Linked DNA regions of Homo sapiens. The protein of the gene in region 1 purifies or fractionates together with the protein of each later gene. This does not show direct contact. Each region holds a gene or a part of one and is shown on either strand. Other genes may lie near its edges.

What was found.
Region 2: the proteins of DDB2 (region 1) and COPS7B purify together in Homo sapiens (affinity purification with mass spectrometry; 4 studies listed by BioGRID and IntAct, with this or other methods). This does not show direct contact.

What each region holds. Positions count from the first base shown.
Region 1 is NC_000011.10:47,231,969-47,239,007, forward strand, and holds part of DDB2 (DNA damage-binding protein 2), read left to right. Parts: intron 1-845; coding exon 846-991; intron 992-2,604; coding exon 2,605-2,704; intron 2,705-2,788; coding exon 2,789-2,966; intron 2,967-3,301; coding exon 3,302-3,444; intron 3,445-5,868; coding exon 5,869-6,033; intron 6,034-6,169; coding exon 6,170-6,215; intron 6,216-6,831; coding exon 6,832-6,881; 3' UTR 6,882-7,039.
Region 2 is NC_000002.12:231,796,445-231,803,483, reverse strand, and holds part of COPS7B (COP9 signalosome complex subunit 7b), read right to left. Parts: intron 4,626-7,039; coding exon 4,520-4,625; intron 2,577-4,519; coding exon of another isoform or gene 2,547-2,576; exon of another isoform or gene 2,383-2,546; intron 2,345-2,382; coding exon of another isoform or gene 2,277-2,344; intron 1-2,276. UniProt on the Homo sapiens protein: Component of the COP9 signalosome complex (CSN), a complex involved in various cellular and developmental processes.

The DNA.
Region 1 (7,039 bases):
ACATATGTTAAAATTCAGAGAACTTTATATCCCAAATTTGCTATATGTTAATTAAAAAAAAAAGTAAAAATAAAGCCTTAAGAAATGAAGGGAGGCGGGGCACGGTGGCTCACGCCTGTAATCCCAGCACTTTGGGAGGCCAAGGGTGGCGGATTACCTGAGGGCAGGAGTTCCAGACCAGCCTGGCCAACATGGTGAAACCCTGTCTCTACTAAAAATATACAATTTAGCCATGCGTGGTGGTGGGCACCTGTAATCCCAGCTGCTTGGGAGGCTGAGGCAGGAGAATCGCTTGAACCTGGAAGGCAGAGGTTGCAGTGAGCCGAGGTCGTGACAGAGCAGGACTCCATCTCAAAAACATAAAAATAAAAATAAAAATAAAAAAAAGAAAGAAATGAAGGGGCCAGACAAAGCGGCTCATGCCTGTAATCTTAGCACTTTGGGAAGCCGTGGCAGGGGGATCGCTTGAGCTTAGGAGTTCAAGACCAGCTTGGGCAACGTGACAAAACCCCATCTTAAAAAAAAAAAATAGAAAAATTAGCTGGGCATGGTGGCACGCACTTGGGAGGCTGAGGTGGGAGGATCGCTTGAGCCCAGGAGATTGAGGCTGCAGTGAGCCGTGTTTGTGCCACTGCACTTCAGCCTAAGTGACAGAGAAAGACCCTATTTCAAAGGAAAAGAAAAAGAAGTGAAGGCCCTGTAGAGAGCGTCCTAGTGTCTAAGCTGACCTGGCCCCAAGCGCTGCTCGAGGGGTGCTTCTGTGACGGCGCAGCATGTGTGCCCAGGCCTGGTTCCTCACGGCCAGGCCCATCATCACTCACTGGCTTTTTCCTTCCTCGTGTTAGATTGGAGCTGGAGGGAGCATCACTGGGCTGAAGTTTAACCCTCTCAATACCAACCAGTTTTACGCCTCCTCAATGGAGGGAACAACTAGGCTGCAAGACTTTAAAGGCAACATTCTACGAGTTTTTGCCAGCTCAGACACCATCAAGTGAGTAGTTTAACTAGCAGGGGAAAGGGCTTCTAAGCTTAGGTGTAGTTCCGGCAAGAGCATCCAGATCCCATTTCCTTAACCCAACCTGGCCCAGGGAAGAAAGGAAAGATGTCAGCCACTTTCCGCCCTTCTTTCTCTTTCTCAAACTGCTCCTTGGCTGCCCTCACTTTGGTCCAGGTGGGTTACTGCTTTGGGAAGGTGTTCTGGAGCCTCAGCTCTTCTGTAAGTCATACCTGTATTAGACTGGACCTTGACCCTCACTAGATAAGCCAGCATGGCGTGGACCCAGAAAGCCACCTAGAGAATGGAGCAACAGCTCAGAACTTGAGACTGAATGCCCTGCACTCACTGTGGTGTAATGACCTGACCTGTTCCTGGGTGGAAGCTTATATGGATGGAATCTTTTCCATAAAGTGCTCTGGACTTCCCAAGAGAAAGTGGCTGGAGAAATTACAGAATGCGGCCGGGTGCAGTGGCTCATGCTTGAAATCCCAGCACTTTGGGAGGCCAAGGTGGGTGGATCACCTGAGGTCAGGAGTTCGAGACCAGCCTGGCCAACATGGTGAAACCCCCATCTCTACTAACAATACAAAAAATTAGCTGGGCGTGGTGGTAGGCCCCTGTAATTCCCAGCTACTTGGGAGGCTGAAGCAAGAGAATCGCTTGAACCCAGGAGGCAGAGGTTGCAGTGAGCCGAGATGGCGCCATTGCACTCCATCCTGGGCAACAAGAGCGAAAATCTATCTCAAAAAAAAAAAAAAAAAATTACAGAATACTCGTCACTTTGATTTCCAGCTAGAGCCGTGACTCTGACTGCTCCCTGAGGAATTAAGTGAGGGTGCTGGGGTGTAACTAGCATTGGATTGGATCCTGGGCTGTCCCGCAGGGATGAGGAGTGCATGCGCACGCAAATCAGCAGGCAATTGGATAGACAAGGCTCCAGGCTACTCTTCCGCAAGAAATCTTCCTGCTTGAAGATATTCATAGGGGATGGCAAAAGGCAGTGTAGCATGGATTTGAGAGTTTGAGAGAAAAACTGTGAGCTGAGCTCTTCTGGCTGAATAGCAGGATCCCTGAAGCACCCTCCTAGTCAGCCTCCCAGTCCAGTGGTTTGAGGGACCAGAAGAGCTCCTGGTTGTGTTTTTTCCCCCAGTGTTCAGAAGGGGGCAGAAGTGCTTTTCTAGCCAGCTCTGAGGAACAGGGCCAGGCAATCCCTCTTTGGCTTGTGTCTCCTTTGGCCTAAAGGGTGAAGAGTGAAAGGAGAGAGCAGTAAAGGAGGCTTGCTCAGAACCCGGGGTGTGGGGGGCAGGCGTGCCTCAGGGCTTGCTTTATGGTATAAGCTTTGTCTGCTTCAGGGACTTTTAGGAGCTGGGGATCCTGGGCCCAGCCATAACCAGACAGATTTCTGAGCCCCATTATCCCATCCCCTCTGTCTGGACGGTAGAGCAGTCTGAATGTTCCTCACTAGGAATCCACGGCAAGACAGTTATTCATTCATTCAACAAATATTTATTGAATGCCCGCTGTGGGTTAGTCACCGGAGCGGCAACAGTGAGTAAATAGGACTATCTCTGTCCCCAAGAATCTTACAACACAGTCTCTCCCTCCAGCATCTGGTTTTGTAGCCTGGATGTGTCTGCTAGTAGCCGAATGGTGGTCACAGGAGACAACGTGGGGAACGTGATCCTGCTGAACATGGACGGCAAAGAGGTGCGTTCTCCGAGGTCCTGCCTTTCCCTCCCTCACCCCCACCTCGGTTCTGTGTCCCCACCTGAACCGAGCTCTTCTCTGCAGCTTTGGAATCTCAGAATGCACAAAAAGAAAGTGACGCATGTGGCCCTGAACCCATGCTGTGATTGGTTCCTGGCCACAGCCTCCGTAGATCAAACAGTGAAAATTTGGGACCTGCGCCAGGTTAGAGGGAAAGCCAGCTTCCTCTACTCGCTGCCGCACAGGCATCCTGTCAACGCAGGTGTGATATCCCAGACCTCATCTCTCCTGCAGACCCTGCCTGTCTGACCACTGCTGGGGTTTTCCCTCAGTGTGGAAGCCACTACGTCAAACCTTTACCCCTGATAGCGTCTGCCAAGCTGATGTCTGGGAACCTTTGTGGCTGTGGCTGTCCCCATCAGCTGCTGAGTTTCCAGAATTTTTTTGTTGTTGTTCACAGCCCAGATTCACCTCTTCCTTTCCGCTCCTGTCTAGAGAGGAGTGGGAGGGAGAGTACCCCTGCAGGAGAAGGCCTGCAAGGCCAGGACCACAGAGGGCTTGTGGTTCCTTCAGCTCAGGGGCTTTTCACTTTGCCAGCTTGTTTCAGTCCCGATGGAGCCCGGCTCCTGACCACGGACCAGAAGAGCGAGATCCGAGTTTACTCTGCTTCCCAGTGGGACTGCCCCCTGGGCCTGATCCCGCACCCTCACCGTCACTTCCAGCACCTCACACCCATCAAGGTGAGTGGCGGTGGGAAGGAGCTCGCAGAAGGAGGCTGTGATCATGAGGCCGGAGCAGGTCTGCCCACAGTGGGGAAGGGCTGATGTGGTAAGCCTGCCACCCCAGATCGCTCCTGGCCCGAGCACAGAGCATCTCTTACCCATTGGCTCTCTCTCTTCCTTTTATCCCACTTCTGCCATCCCATATGGTTGAGTTTTCTGTCTCGCTGATAAGATATTTTTCTGAGTTTTTTCAGCCCAGCTCTGATCTCACTGTGAGAATTTTCTAAGATCCTGACCCTCTGTTCTGTCTTCTCAGCTTCAGTTACCTGTGTACAGTTGACCCACAAACCTTCATTTTTTATTTTTTTATTATTTTTTTTAAGGCAGGGTCTCGCTCTGTCACCCAGGTGGGAGTACAGTGGGGCAAGCATGGTTCATTACAGCCTTGATCTCCCAGGCTCAAGCGATCCTCCTGCCTCACTTTTTTTTTTTTTGTAGAGACAGGGTATTCTTGTGTTACCCAGGCTGATCCTTTTTTTTTTTTTTTTTTTTTTTCTTGAAACGGTCTTGCTCTGTCACCCAGGCTGGAGTGCAGTGGCACAAACATAGCTCACTGCAGCCTCAACCTCCTGGGTTCAAGCAATCCTTCCGCCTTAGCCTCGGAAGTAGATTGGACTACAGGTATGCGCCACCATACCCAGCTAATTTTTTTATTTTTTATAGAGATGGGGTTTTGCCATGTTGCCCAAGCTGGTCTTGAACTCCTAGGTTGAAGCCATCCCCCAACCTTGGCCTCCCAAAGTGCTAGGATTACAGGCATGAGCCACTGCGCCTGGCAACTTTGCCTTCTTAGTTTGTCTTGCAGGTTTCAGTGCTTCTAATAATAAAAATAAGTCTTTTATTTTCCCACCTTTTCTCAGGCTCTTGTTAATAGCTTCTCTATCATTAGTCCCCAACACTAATAGCTTTCAAGTCCTTTGATGCCTTTTTGCCTAAGCCCCCATGCAGACTGAGCTCTGCTAGTTCTGCATTCTTTTCCAAAACTACAGATCCTCTTCAGATCTTCAGGTTTTATGCCTATACTTCTCTGGTCAGTTCAGAATAGTGGTGGGGAGCGCCAGTTTCCAGCAGCCAGACCCCCCGGGTTAGAATCCTTGGGCAAATTACTTATATTTTGGATCTGTTTCCTCATCTGCAAAAAGGGAATACTAGTCTCTAACTGATAGGGTTGTTGTGAAGATGAGTCAGTATACTTAAAGCACTTGGCCCCATGCCCAGCACCTGGTAAGTACTGGTAAGTATTCAATAAATGATGATTGAATATTGAGTGGCCCCCACGTACCTCAATCACATCCAAGCTCTTAATAAATAATGTCAAGAATCCTTCCCCAGTTGGTGTTCCTGTTAATCCATCAGTGTTCCCGATAATCCATCTGTCTGCATGTCCCAGTTTGTATCTAGCCAGGTGTCGTAAGTCATTACAGCTTCCTGTGTGTGATTTGTGACTTATTTCTAAGCCTTCGCATGTACTATTTCTTCCTTCCTGCTAACCATGTCTTTCTTCCTTCAAAACTTCCTTGAGAAGTTTAGGAAAATCCCATCCAATTCTGCCATTTTAATAACTGCCAGATTTGTTTTTAGTGGGGTGATCTGGGGAATGTGGGTTTCCTTCTCTTTTTTAGCCATTAGCAATTTTACACTCAGCTCTTAGTTATTCGTGTTGATGGAGACAGGATGACAGTGGGGCTCCTCCAGAACTCAAGTCCTGTTAGGGTTTGGTCACCAGAGGCTTTTTCTGCTTTGTTGTAGGCCTCTTAGGTCAGTATCTGGGTCAGGCTGATGTTAAAACGTTTACCAGTTGGTATGATCTTAGGAAATGCAAATGAGGGAGAAGGCCTGAAGGTGCCCTAAGGGCCAGGGAGGCCAGCTAGGGATTAAAAATGTGCAATGGCAGAGGCACACACAACCTAAAACCATTCTTGTAGTTTTCTGTAAGACTTATCTCCATTATTAGGTTGGCTTGTTACTGGCAAATACTACTTTTTTTTTTTTTTTTTTGAGAGTCTTGCTCTGTCACCTAGGCTGGAGTGCAGTGACATGATCTTCACTCACTGCAACCTCCGCCTCCCGGGTTCAAGTGATTCCCCTGCCTCAGCCTCCCAAGTAGCTGGGACTACAGGCATGTACCACCACGCCCAGCTAATTTTTTTTTTGGTATTTTTAGTAGGGACGGGGTTTCACCATGTTAGCCAGGATGGTCTCGATCTCCTGACCTCGTGATCCGCCTGCCTCAGCCTCCCAAAGTGTTGAGATTACAGGTGTGAGCCACTGCACTCAGCCCAAAGAATACTTTTGATGTTCCTCTTTGTTCATATTTGTTTTTGATGTCCCCCTTGATCATGTTCTGTGTTTACCCTCATGGCCGGCCTCTCCATCTCCTAGGCAGCCTGGCATCCTCGCTACAACCTCATTGTTGTGGGCCGATACCCAGATCCTAATTTCAAAAGTTGTACCCCTTATGAATTGAGGACGATCGACGTGTTCGATGGAAACTCAGGGAAGATGATGTGTCAGCTCTATGACCCAGAATCTTCTGGCATCAGTTCGGTGAGGCTTGGGTCCTCAAATAATGATGGGAGGAAGCAGGGATTCAACCTACCTTATTGACCAAAAGTGACCAGAAATCAGGTGTCTCTGCTAATACCTTCACCCTCTCCTCATGTTGACACTCTTGTCTCTGCAGCTTAATGAATTCAATCCCATGGGGGACACGCTGGCCTCTGCAATGGGTGAGTAGGAGGAGAATGTCTCTGACTTGCCAAGTCCGATCCTACTTCCCAAGGTTCAGTGCGGGCCAGCCTCAGCCCCGCCCTGCCACATTCACCCCAGGGCAGTGGCCCACGAAGAAGATGGCTGGGAGACAGTGGTCTCTATAGCCAAGGCCCTCCATTCCTCTGGCTTTGTCTTGGTCATGCAATGCCTGGCTACTGTCCAGTTTCCTAGTATTTCTTTTTTTTTTTTGAGACGGAGTCTCGCTCTGTCCCCCCGGGCTGGAGTGCAGTGGCGTGATCTTGGCTCAATGCAAGCTCCGCCTCCTGGGTTCACGCCATTCTCCTGCCTCAACCTCTCGAGTAGCTAGGACTACAGGTGCCCGCTACCACGCCCAGCTAATTTTTTGTATTTTTAGTAGAGACAGGGTTTCACCGTGTTAGCCAGGATGGTCTCGGTCTCCTGACCTCGTGATCCGCCCACCTCAGCCTCCCAAAGTGCTGGGATTACAGACTTGAGCCACCGCGCCCGGCCTTCCTAGTATTTCTTTACCAAATTGTAGGTTTGCGGGCCAGCCCCAGGCTCTGAGAGATTGGTAACAGAAAGTGTAAGTCAGACTGGTCTCACTCTTCCTAGGTTACCACATTCTCATCTGGAGCCAGGAGGAAGCCAGGACACGGAAGTGAGAGACACTAAAGAAGGTGTGGGCCAGACAAGGCCTTGGAGCCCACACATGGGATCAAGTCCTGCAAGCAGAGGTGGCGATTTGTTAAAGGGCCAAAAGTATCCAAGGTTAGGGTTGGAGCAGGGGTGCTGGGACCTGGGGCACTGTGGGACTGGGACA
Region 2 (7,039 bases), on another chromosome or scaffold:
ATAAAAAGAAATAAGACTTGGCCCAGGGAAAAACTTGGTTTTTTCTCTAGTTCTGAAATACCAAGATCAGGTACCTTCCTTCCCACTCCTCAACACATGCCCTGCACTCAAGCCATCTCAGCCACACTCGTCCCCCACACCACACTTGGAAGCAGTCATTCCCCCTATGCCCTTCTGTTGTTCATGCACCCCGGGGGTTACCGCTCCTCCCCAGGTTGCCCCTCTGATCCTGCCTGGAGAGTTGAGCACCTGGTCCATACAAACTGCCCTGACTGCTGCAGCCCACACTGATCTGCCACCCTTCAATCTGTACTTGCCTGGCAGTGCCTCTCCCTCTTCGATGGCCTCCCACACCACTGCATCTCCTTTGTGTTTCAGATGCACACACCTCACTCCTCCAATAAGACTGCTGACAAATCTAAGTCCTCTACAGTCGTTACCACTTTGAGGCAAAATGTAAACATCCTGCAGAGGAAAAGAGGGCTTCTTGGGCAAGTGTCTCTAAGCCTAGGAAATGAGCCTTTTATCCTCCACAAAGGCCTGGCCTGGGCTGGGGCAGGGCCATGGCCCTCACACTGGGATCCATTACAGAGACACTTTGCTCAAGTCAGCTTTACCACTGCATTTACAACACACAACTCACAAACGAGACTTCTGAAGCACTGACAGACTCTCCTAGTGGAAGGGGATCTTAAAATTCAACTAGCTTCTTCCAGTAGCTGGGCAGTTGTAACCGCAGACAGCTCCTTCTAGGACTCCAAATTGGCCACCCAGGTAGGTCAACCAATTAAACCCATTCTGGTCTCGTAGACTTTCTTAAGAATTCCAATTCCTCTTCCACAGTCACCCTTCAACTGACAACAAATATCATCACCACAGACTTGTCTTCTTTTACCTAAATTTGGTAGAGTTCCTTATGACTTTCTTCCTCCAGTGGCCTGGCTTACAGGCTCCTCAAAACATGAACCTCAGAAATTTTCAAGTAAGATTGCACTGCTAGCAAAAATGCAGCCTAGCTCCATCAGAGACCTTAAATATTTAGGCAAAAGGAGAAAGAGCTTTCTGGGGCAGGAAACCTTCCTTCAGTTGAGGGGCAAAGCAAAGGCAGACGAGAGGAAACACAGTGCACAACTGGAAAAGTGCTACAAAGAAAAAGAGAACTGGGTGATGGAGAGTCCCTTTCCAAGAGGTACCAGGAAGCATACTTTTGGTGCATTGTATAAATCTCAAGATTGTCACTAACTCCTAGGAGATTTTCTACATAATGGAAAACAGAGCTTACTTTGTCCAGTTACACTTTACGACCTCCATGACTGGAACACAGCCTACTTTGTAAATGTAGCAATAGTTATAAATTAACATTCCACCTAACATCAGACATAGGCACATCCAAATATAAAGAAAAATGAGGCCGGGCGCGGTGGCTCAGGCCTGTAATCTCAGCACTTTGGGAGACCGAGGCAGGCGGATCACTTGAGGTCCGGAGGTGGAGAACAACCTGGCCAACATTGCGAAACCCCGTCTCTACTAAAAATACAAAAATTAGCTGGGCGTGGTGGCGGGCACCTGTAATCCCAGCTACTCAGGAGGCTGAAGCATGAGAATTGCTTGAACCCAGGAGGCGGAGGTTGCAGTAGTGAGCCAAGATCATGCCACTGCACTCCAGCCTAGGCAACAGAGTGAATTTCCATCTCAAAAAAGAAAAAAAGAAAAGTAGGTTGGGCATGGTGGCTCACGCCTGTAATCCCAACAAAGAGGGAGCCAGAGGTGGGAGGATAGCTTGAGGTTAGGCGCTCAAGACCAGCCTGAATAATACAGCAAAACCCAGTTCTCCCTAAAAAAAAAAAAAAAAAGAAAAGAAAAAAAATCAGCCAGGTGTGGTAGCATACACCTGTAGTCCTATAGTCCTAGCAACTTGGGAGGCCGAGGTGGAAAGACTGCTTGAGCCCAGGAGGTTGAGGGTGCAGCGAGCTGTGTTTGCACCACTGCACTCCATGCACTCCAGCCTGGGTGACAGAGACTCTGTCTCAAAAAGAAAATACTTTCCAAAATCAAATTTAAATGTGAAAGTGCTTTGTAATGCTCTAAGTATTACCTCCCCACCACAGTGCTTCCTCAGAAATAATGAAACAGCTCATAATGGTCCCCCAGGTATGCTGGAACTAGGAACTAATATGGGTTATTTCCACAAAAGCCTAAATGGAGAGAATATTCTTCGGCAGTCTGTGATAGGGCTGACTTCATTAAGAAGGAGGGCTCTTAAAGCTACAACTCACCAGAAGAAAGCTGTTGTTATAAGATTCAGGAGGGGGACATCACGTTTTTCCCTCTGAAAACAAGCAATCTAATTTAAGGACAAATAAAGAAAAGATCACCAATCAGTTGACAAAATTGGCTTTTAAAAGTTAGGCCAAGGGTAACAGAGGCATAAATACAAACAGAATACGACAGAATCACCCTGATTCTTTGTAGATTTCTTTTCCTTTCAAGTCAGTAGCTATTTGGTGAGTATCTTCTGTGTGCCTCAAGTAGGTGGCAAGCAGCCTTCAACACTTAGCAGCCAGATCATGCATTTGCTAAATGGAAAAAATGACAAGGTCCTAAGCTTTGGCCATGCTCAGGGAACAGACCATATTGGTCTGGTTCAGATTTTCTAAAAGATTATTACGTCAATGGACTGTTTTAATTGGTGGTGGAGGTGGCCTTGGCCTTTTGCTCAGATTTCTTTTTCTCAAACTTAAATCCTTACCGCCACCTGCTGGCAGCACCAGGCTCTGCTCGTGCACACACCCACCCTCTGTGTTTAAATAACCAAAATTTAAAGAGTCTACACTGTTGTGTAACTACACGGTGTGCCTCAAACTTTAGCCAAGTGTCTACAATAGCTCTGTGCACACCCGCCTTTCTTTTGTCTGATGCTATTTATAATGAAAATAAACTTGAACAGTTCAAAATTCTAAAACAAGTATCATTCATCTTTGTTAATGACCTTGATACCAAAGATTAGGTAGTGTGGTTAGCCTCCCAACCTCATTTTGTACAGAGTTTGATTTATAGGGAAGAATAAACAGAAAGGAGAAAGCGGTTAGCCCTTCCTACTTTGTTCAGACCTCAATCCCAAGTCAGAGAAAAGGCCACCATCATCAAGAGGGTTGTTGCACAGCTTATTAGAAAAGCAGCAAGCTTATTTTCCTAATTGTCTTTGCTTTGGACTAATGTTAAATATAGTTAACACTTCCTTGCCCAGGCTGGTCTCGAACTCCTGGACTCACGCAATACTTCCTCCTCGGTCTCTCAAAGTGTTGGGATTACAGGTGTGAACCACTGCACCCAGCCTCATACTTCCTTGGCTAGTCGGATTAAACATGGTCTATGAATTGAACATCCACAGAGTATATGTATATAGGGTGGTGTGTGTGTGTATTCAAAAAAATTAGCTCAAGTTCATGAAAAGCAGAGTTCAGCAGTCCACTGACACACTTTTATGGTGTGCCAGAAATATTCAGTTCAACATTTGAGTACCTACTATGGGTTAGGCATGAGACAAGACGCTCGTCTTACAAATAGGACACAGGTTTTATTTTCAAGGAGTGCATATAACAGTATAGAGAATCACTCCAAATTTCACAAATCCCCCTTTGAAAGGCACCATCTACTCATCTCTTATGCTTCTTAGCTGGAATTACGGGTCCCACTCCGCCACTCTTAGACACCTGATTTTCAAAATTCATTAAGCATCATTAATACTTCAAACTCCATTCACACTAGAAAAGAACTTCCAATGCTAAGGAAAATCAGTGCAGGGCTCCAAATAAATTGTGAAGTGAGGTCACTTCATGTGTCAGGTTACAGGTACACAAATGCCCATAACGCAAAGGCTGGGGCCTACATCTGTCCAAGAAGCTAAAAGTTTCCTCAACAACCAGGTGTCACTAAAACCACACTTACATCCTCTTTACTTCACTTGCAGCTCATCTGCCAAATTTTATCCCTTTCTTCTTTCCGTATGAAACATGTCATGCATTTTACACATTTATAATATATATGTACAGTTCACAGAGAAAGAATAAAATGAAACTATGTGCCCACCACGCAACTTAAGAAGCAGAACACTCCCAGGGCCTTGAAGCCCCACATGCCCCTGCCCAGCTGTACCCCTCCCTCCACTCCACCTGGTAACTTACCACCATCCTTCTATCCATTTTTAAGATCCATCCCCAAACTCATTTTCTTTTGCTCTATAGCTGCAAAGTACATGTGTACTGAAACTACAACATTCTCTGTTCTCCAAGCCTGATTGATCACCCTATGCTGACCAGGAATCAGAAAAAAGAGACAGAACACCAAGAGCAGGAGCCGTGTCACACTCATCCCTGTAACCCAGCACCTAGCCCAGGCCCACTTGTTGGTGACTGCTTGTTTCATCTACACCAAGATTCGCAAAACAAAAACATAAACACTGCAAACGAATAAACAGGTATGCCTGGAGAGAGAAACAAATGTTCCTTTCCTTCCTTACCTCTGCTTCTACCTGCTGCTGAGTTCGGTTGTGGTTCTCTTTGTACTGGTTGGCTCTCAGAACTTGCTGCTCGATGCCCAGTAGAACTGCTTCACAGCCATCACACCTACAATGGAGAAAACCAGCCCTGAGCTGCAGAATGGCCTGGGAAGTCTCTTCCAGGCTCAGAAATATTCTTCCCCAACAGCTCTCCCCAGTATCTTACAGGGACCTCCTTTAATACTCCCTCTGCCACATCTCTTGCCCGTTCACTCCTTCCCAAAGACAAGCACTTCTAAATACATAATGCAGGACATTAGGAGACAAATATGGTAGTCTGGGGCTAGTTTCTTAGAATACAGCTTTAATTTTCAACTTTGTATCTCATGGAAGATGGTTTTGTAGCACATACGATTAAAGAAGGTAGGACAGGCCGGGTGCAGTGGCTCCCACCTGTAATCCCAGCTCTTTGAGAGGCCGAGGTGGGTGGATCACCAGGTCAGGAGTTCGAGACCAGCCTGGCCAACACAGTGAAACCCCATCTCTACTAAAAATACAAAAATTAGCCAGGTGTGGTGGCGGGTGCCTGTAATCCCAGCTACTTGGGAGGCTGAGGCAGGAGAATCACTTGAACCCGGGAGGCGGAGGTTGCAGTGAGCTGAGACCACGCAATTGCACTCCAGCCTGGGTGACAGAGCGAAACTCTGCCGCAAAAAAAAAAAAAAAAAAAAGAAGGTAGAATAGATTTTATAGATGGCACTGAGTAATCCTTTTCTCAACAGAAAAAAAAGATGTTCTAGGCCAGGCGCAGTGGCTCATGCCTGTAATCCCAGCACCTTGGGAGGCCGAGGCAGGCGGATCACCTGAGGTCGGGAATTCGAGACCAGCCTGACCAACATGGAGAAACCCCGTCTCTACTACAAATACAAAATTAGCCAGGCCTGGTGGCACACGCCTGTAATCCCAGCTACTAGGGAGGCTGAGGCAGGAGAATCGCTTGAACCTGGGAGGCAGAGGTTGCGGTGAGCTGAGATCGCACTATTGCACTCCAGCCTGGGCAACAAGAGCAAAACTGTCTCAAAAAACAACAAACAAAAAAAGATTTCCTAAAAGCATCCTGTTTTGAAGATTCCGCCTTTTCTCAGAAGTTTAAGTTACTTCCTAATTGCCATACCCCTCCTCCTATTTTCCCCACTATTAATTTTTTTAAAAATGAAAAAGTTGAAAGACTACAATGAATATCCCCATACCCTCCACTTAAGATCCAACAGTGTGAGCATTTTGCCATATATGTGGTAGCCCTCAGCCTATGAATTTTGTTTCAATCTACCTCCAGTGCCTAAACATGAGTTGTAAGAGTTTCTACTAGTAAACATCCCATGGTAACCAGTTAGTCTGGCACCTCTATGTCAAACATATTGGGGGCTTAAAAACAGGAAACCAGACTATGGACATAAAAAGCTGTGTCAGCCATCTCAAAAACAGAATAGGACAGCCAACTTTGGCAGGTTCAGAAACTAGATTTTGTGTGCCAGACCATTTTTGTGTTGGGGTATTTCTAAGTTTATTTCTTATTTATTCTAAGTTTTGTAAGCTATTGAAAACTTCCACTTGTGGCAGATGTTGTATAGAGAAGGTGTTTGGGGCTATATTTGGGACAGAACTTGGGGTGAGGGGTGAGCAACACATGTCCTGGGGTGTAAAAGTAGCTGAAGTGAGGGAAACTCAGGGGACATCAGGCCCCAAGGAGTCAAAGTGGCACTGCTCCTCTCTGGATATGCTTCTCTCGGGGATGAGCAGAGATTCTCTCTCCCTCCCGAACCTGTGTACAAAGCTCACCGGGTCTGCTTCATGGCTTCCAACATGCCACGTGCCTGCCTGGGAACACACTCTCCTCACCTCCAGGTATACTCTAACCCTGGCCTTCCTTCAAAACTGAGCTAAAACTTCTCCAATCAGTCCATCTGGCTTTATAAGCCCCAAATAATTTAAATCACTCCACAGTGAATCCTCGTAGAATGTGAGACAGCTCTTACAAATATCAAATTCCATTAAAACAGAGAAAACACAAATGTCCCAATGCTTTTTATATACCAGAGTATAGTTATCAGATATTCTTTGTATGAGTCTGTATTCCAAGTTAAAATGACCCACTCCTTGTCTTCCATGTCCCTCACGGTGTTTTACAAACATTAGCCCAATATGTTACTGATTTTGAACGTAAGTTCTTTTATCCGAAGAATCTTATAAACATGTTAACTTCAACAGGGATAGAAAAAATAATAAAAACAAAGAAAGAATCTTACAAACACTAGCCTTCCTGAGTTTGGTCAAACTTTGAGCGTGAGTTTGGAAAGGGCAGGACTAGCCTCACACAGCTAGGACACATAGGCTCCACCTGCTAACCCTGGGCATTTTATAGCCCACTTTTAAATAGCTCCCAGTTGCATTTAAGGAAAGAACTATTTTACAACCAAGGCACCAGGAGGCCTGAAATGACTCCTGTTATCACACAGCTGTGATCACAAATGTAGCTCCACT